Regions from separate parts of the Homo sapiens genome. Here region 1 is linked to region 2. A link means that fine-mapping ties the variant in region 2 to the expression of a gene that starts in the linked region. Tissue or cell type: lung. Region 2 holds a variant in brackets; the other region holds the start of a gene. All regions are shown on one strand. Distances are from middle to middle. Region 1 holds the start of ANXA2R-OT1 (ANXA2R overlapping transcript 1). Region 2 holds the start of LOC105374748 (a long non-coding RNA gene).

The links.
Region 1: it holds the start of ANXA2R-OT1, and the variant in region 2 is fine-mapped to the expression of ANXA2R-OT1 in lung (TOPMed, PIP 0.92).

The regions. Positions count from the first base shown.
Region 1 is chr5:43,065,881-43,068,782 of GRCh38, reverse strand. ANXA2R-OT1 (ANXA2R overlapping transcript 1) reads left to right here and starts at 1,344. Exons shown (of 3, transcript NR_104651.1): 1 at 1,344-1,485; 2 at 1,626-1,696. It overlaps LOC100132356 (a long non-coding RNA gene), which reads left to right and starts at 1,812. Exons shown (of 1, transcript NR_034127.1): 1 at 1,812-2,902. LOC100506639 (a long non-coding RNA gene) reads right to left here and starts at 1,760. Exons shown (of 3, transcript NR_102752.1): 1 at 997-1,760; 2 at 566-813. RefSeq lists an enhancer at 1,733-2,132.
Region 2 is chr5:43,017,033-43,019,889 of GRCh38, reverse strand. All of the region lies in intron 2 of ANXA2R-OT1 (ANXA2R overlapping transcript 1), which reads left to right. It overlaps LOC105374748 (a long non-coding RNA gene), which reads right to left and starts at 1,745. Exons shown (of 3, transcript NR_188279.1): 1 at 1,218-1,745; 2 at 574-654. RefSeq lists enhancers at 1,577-1,716, 1,256-1,778, 2,177-2,416. The variant A/G (reference allele first, on the strand shown) is at 1,644.

The DNA of each region.
Region 1 (2,902 bases), 49 kb before region 2:
TTGGGTGGGGACACGGAGCCAAACCATATCAGCATCTCTCCTGATTTTCCAAATGCAAATGTCTTATAGTCTCTTGCTGAGGAATATACAGTTGCCGACTTGCCCTTTCTCTGACCACCCCACACAAACACCATATTGGAATCAGACAGAATCTGAATGCCGGAACTAGAATGCCTCCTCCTTTAGGGAAGTAAGCTCCATAACTCCTGTCCACATTCCTAACCTGGAAGAGTGACCCCTTCCCTCCAGAGGTGCTGATCCCACCATTTTTGCTAAAATAGGAAGCTAGGGTGGAAACGGAGAGAGGAATGGTGGGTGAGATATTTTGTTTTTTCAAAGGCTCTGCACAGTATCTTCAATTAGATAAAGTGGCTGTAACTTTTCTTCTATTGACACTGCCCTCTTTCCTTTATTCTACTGCCTGCAAAAGAAGGCAACTGAAGAAGCCTCAAGTACCAGGGCAGGTTTTGGCTAGCTGAAGAAAGGGTAAGGTATAGGGGGGAAGACTGGAGGTGACCATCTTGGGAGTGGGTGAGAAGTGAGAGCCCAAAATGGGTCTTCTTACCTCTCTGGTACATTCTGTGCTCTTCTCTGGTCTGACATCCGCCCAGGTTCATCCAGAAAAAGATGGAAATGATTTGAACAGGATAAGCTAGGGTGAGGATTAGACACGATGAGTTCAGCTGGAGACACTCATGGTAGAGTCTGGAGGTCTCTTTGGGGGATCACTTCCAAAAGTGCAGATTTTTAGAAAAACGAGAAAGGTTCTGGAAAGGGATGTTTTCCTTCTGCTCAATGGCAGTTTCAGGTTTCCTGTAAGAAAGGAGTTTGTAGCGTCAGTATATTTGACAAATGTGGGAGAGGGAAGATTCAAGAGCTTGAAATTGCATTGCACTTCCCAAAGATGGAGAAGACATCAGGGATGAATTTCAAAGGTGATAGAAATCGGGAACTGCCCTTTGAGGATTTCAAGGGGAGAGGGAGCAAAGGCCTCACCATCAATCCACACGTCCTGTGCTAGAGTCTTGCGATTCTTATTTCCCCTACCCTCCTGCAACGATTATTCCCATATATCAAGGCCATCTGACAGAGTTAACCATCAGAATTAAATAGCAGTTCCCACAGAGTTCCATCCCCTGGAGAGGTACCTAGCTGCCGGGGCAGGCCTGAAGCCTCGGTCAGGAGGCATTGAGTCTTTCACTCTCCACGGAGGTCTTGGACTGAGAACTTCAAGTTCCAAAGGGATGAGGTGTCGGCTTCGCCCTTAGGAGCCTGGAGGGCTCTGACCAAGGAGAAGGGCGGAGCCCAGCCACTGGAAGGTTTGTTTCTTGCAGTGGAAGACGGTTGGCGACCCGGATGGCTTTTGTTACCAGGGCCAGCCCAATCCGCCCGATTCTCGGTCCCTATACTGCCTCCTTTTCCCATGCGCATCGCAAGGGATCGGTTGATGGGGCCCTCAGTATGACTTCGCTAGGAAAAATAAAGGTCTTCTTAGGCGGGAGGGGACTGATTTGAGGACGGAGGGTGGGAGTAGTGCCAGCAGCACTTTGTCGTAGTGGCACTGGGTGGGCAGTTATCAGTTGCAGTCCGCTCGTTTCTCAGTGCCCACGGTTTCTCACTGACAGTGCAGCTCGTTTCTCAGAGCCGGCGGATGTTCATGGGCAGCACCATCGAGCCAGAAGCAGTATTTGTCCTGGTAAGTCATTTCTCAACTGCCGAAGTGTACTAGGTTCCAGTCCCGCTGGTTTCTCGAATCTGCTAGTCCCACACGAGCACCAATAGGTAAACCCAGCCGGCAGTTTCCGGCTAGCACTTTCGCTATTTGAAGACATTAGGAAGTTATGTGGTGGCTCCGTACCCTCCTTTCTCCATCCGAGGCCGGGGTCCTAAAGTCGGTGTCACGGTGGCAGCACCCAGCGTTTTGTTGGCTCTTTCGCCAGCAGCGCCGAGCGGGGGGTTTTCTGTCACAGCACTTGTTGCACCGAATTTCTCGGTCGCAGAACCTCTCTTTTCCGAGGGTCGACATTTTCTGCGTGACAACACCGTTGGTTCCGCCAAAATGGATGTTGTCCTTGGGAACTCCTCCGGCTGGCGTCACTCTTAGGGTCCCAGCACCGCCATTTCGCCAAGCCGAGTTCTCTTGGTCGCGGCACATCTTGTTCCTCGGTGCCTCCATTTTCTCGGTGGCGGCAGCGCTCTGGTAGCCGATCTGAGGGATTTGGAATCGCAGCCAGTTGCGCAGAGTCTGGGGTTCCCGGGCGACGCCGGCGCTGGGCGGGGGAGCCCGCCGCTCCTCCGAGCCAGAGGCAGAGGAGCTGCGCGGACGCCGTCTCTTCACAGCGCCGCGAGCGCCGACGCACGGGTTCCTGCTCGGCCTCCTGAACCCAGTCCCCCGGCGGCGCCGCTGGCGTCTCTATCGCAGGCCCCTGCGGTTTCGCCCGTCGTTGGCTTCTTGGTCCTAGCAAGTTTCGATTTCGCGGTGCCCGCTATTTCTACCTCTTGTCCAAATAACTAGCCAAAATGTGATTTCTCAGCCTAAGCAAGTCCCGATTTAGGGCATCGGTCTAGCCCTGGCTGCGATTTCTTGGTCCTAGGAAGTCACTGTTTAGCTGTAGCAAGGCAGACTTAACCGTGCGATGGTGACTTTTCTTTTTCTTTGGTTCTTTTTCTTTTCTCTTTCTTTCTTGATACGGGGTCCGGCTCTGTCGCCCAGGCTGGAGTGCAGTGCCGCGATCTCGGCTCACTGCAACCTCCGCCTCCCGGGCTGAAGCGATCCTCCCACCCCAGCCTCCGGGGTAGCTGGGACCACAGGCACGCGCCACCACGCCCGGGTAATTTTTTGTATCCTTCCTAGAGACAGGATTTCGCCATGTTGCCTGGGCTGGTCTCAAACTCCTGATTT
Region 2 (2,857 bases):
TGACAGAAAAAGCGCCAGCTAACGGTGCTATGAAATTACTAGTGCGTACAGCGGCTCCGTGCAATCACCGTTCTGCACAGTAAAACATGGTTTAGGAAGTTCTTTAGCAGATACTAGCGGTGCGAGAACCAAGAAAGTGACAGCACAGAGAACATAAGGACCTGGCGAATGGGAAACGTCACACTGGGCGCTAAGAACGGTGCCGTAACTGAGAAAACGCTAGTCGGCTCTACTGGCAAAAGCGCTGATGCAAAACCATCAGCTCCGCATACGAAGGAGAGCCACCAGACACAACCTGGCACCTGACAGCAGGGAGACTGAGACCGAGCTCGGCTCCCCGGATCCTGAGAGAATGTAAGTAAAGAAGCAGGAAGCTGAGACGCTCAAAATTAGTAGAAAAAAAATACATAACATTTAAATAAAATCAAAATTAAAAAAATAAAGGCTAAAATGCAAGTAAACATGGAAAGCAAACACATCGGTAACATCGTTCTCAGAGCAAAAGACAAAGAGAGAATTTAAAAATAAGCAAAAATTACAGAGAACCAATCCTAGAAAGAAGAAATTACAAACCTTGCTAAAAGATGCAATCCTACAATTGTGATATCTCTGTCAGATCTAAACCGGTACATGTTACACCTAAGTCTACATTTCCTACGAAAACAAAAACAAAAACAAACAACACCAACAAAAAAAAGCAGTCACGGTTAAACCTTTTTTACTACGACTTAAAAATCGCAGTAGCTGGTCTATTCAGACTTGGTCCACAAGAGGAAAAAGTCGCGTTCGGCAGGACTTGCTATTGCCAAACGGAGCTTGGTAACCAGAAATCGCGTTTGCGGACATTTCCTGACTTCCATGGGAGTTTAAAATACACACAAGCTTAGCTAAGGTGGGACTCAATATTGCGAAAACAAACTTGGTATAAGAGCTCCCAGGCACTGCTAAACTGATCATCGGTAAACCTAAAAAAAATCGCATTCGCGGGTACCCAGATTTCTTTTTCTTTTCTTTTTTTTTTTTTTTTTTTTTTTGAGTTGGAGTCTCGCTCTGTCGCCCAAGCTGGAGTGCAGTGGCGCGATCTCGGCTCACTGCAAGCTCCGCCTCCCGGATTCACGCCATTCTCCTGCCTCAGCCTCCCGAGGAGCTGGGACTACAGGGACCCGCCACCACGCCCGGCTAATTTTTTTGTATTTTTAGTAGAGACGGGGTTTCACCGTGTTAGCCAGGATGGTCTCGATCTCCTGACCTCCTGATCCGCCCGCCTCGGCCTCCCAAAGTGCTGGGATTACAGGCGTGAGCCACCGCGCCCGGCCGGTACTCCGAAGCCCTCAGATCGGCGACCTGGGCGCTGTAGGCACCGAGAAAATACAGGCACCGAGCCAGAAGCAGTGCCGCAACCAAGAGACCTCGGCTTGGCGAAATGGCGGCGTCTGGAGCCTGCGAGTGACGCCAGCTGGTGGGGCTGTCAAGGAGAACATTCGTTACGGCGCAACCAACGGTACTGTCACCAAGAAACCGTCGTCTCTGAGAAAAAAAGAGACGTTCGGCCGCCGAGAAACTCCGTACAAGTGCTGTGACAGAAAAACCGCCGGCTCCGCGCAGCGGCAAAAGAGCCAACGGGAACGCCGGGTGCTGCGACC[A/G]TGACCCCGGCACTGGAGGACGTGGGATGGAGAATGGGACACACGGAGCGAGAAGGGAAACGTTTCGTGCAGACCAACTAGCGCCGCCGCCACCGGAAAACTGACTCGCCAGTGCTGCCAATGAAGTGCGTGTGAGAAACCGATGACTGGTGGGAGGAGCAGCGCTGGGCGCTGGACCCGCGAGTGTGAGAATCTGGCGGCGCTAGGACCCTTCAGGCGCGGGCACGAGGCGAAACCCAGCGCTGTTGCCAAAGACAAATGCGCGTTCTTTTGGGCGCCATCAGCGGTGCAGCCAGTGATCACTCCCAGGCTCTGAGAAACTAGAGATGTCAGCCACAAACCCTCCGTTCAGGGAAAGTTTGCGGCGCCGTGACGGATCGACTGGCACTGGGTGCAACATTGTCTTGTGGCCTAGAGACTAGAATATAAAAACAAAAACCAAATACAAAACTGCTGCTGGCATTACTCCTACTCTCCCCCCTCAAGTCAGTGGCTTCAGGCTTAAGAAAACCTGTATTTTTCTTGGCTGTGCCATAATCCGTAATTACCGAGGCCCCCAGCGACCCACCCAGTGTGATTCGCAGAGGGAAAGGAGCTGGAATAAGGACCGTGAATGGGGCGGATGTGGCTCGTCCTGGGAGAGAGCTAAAGCTTATGCTGGTCGCAAACAGCATTACATTGCAGGAAACTGCTCTTCCAATGGCCGTGGCTGGGTCCTTCCACACCATCCCTCTGCCCTAGACCTTTGTCCCCGTTCAGAGCCATCAGAGATTCTAGGAGAGCTGTCGACAACCGCATCTCTTCGGAACTTGGAAACTCTAGGTTCAAGATCTCCGTGGAGAATGAAAGGCACAGTCGCCTGACCCGGGCATCAGGCTTGCCCCGCACATCAAGTCCCTCCCCTACTGGATGGAACTCTGTGGCAATCGCTCCTTATTCTGATGGTTCACTCTGTCAGATATCCTCGATATTTGGGGATAGTAGTTCAAAAACAGCCGGGGAGGAAAATGGGCTGAAAGATTCCAGCGTTGGATGTAGAATTGACAGCGAGACATACACCTCCTCTCTAAGCCCAGAGAAAAGCTCAAGTTGTGGTTCTCTGTCTCTAGCAGCATGATCTTCAAAATGCATCATTGATTTCTATCTTCTGGGAAATGCAATGCAGGTGAACTTGTAAGTGCTCAAATCCTCCATCTCCTCACTTTTCAGACTGA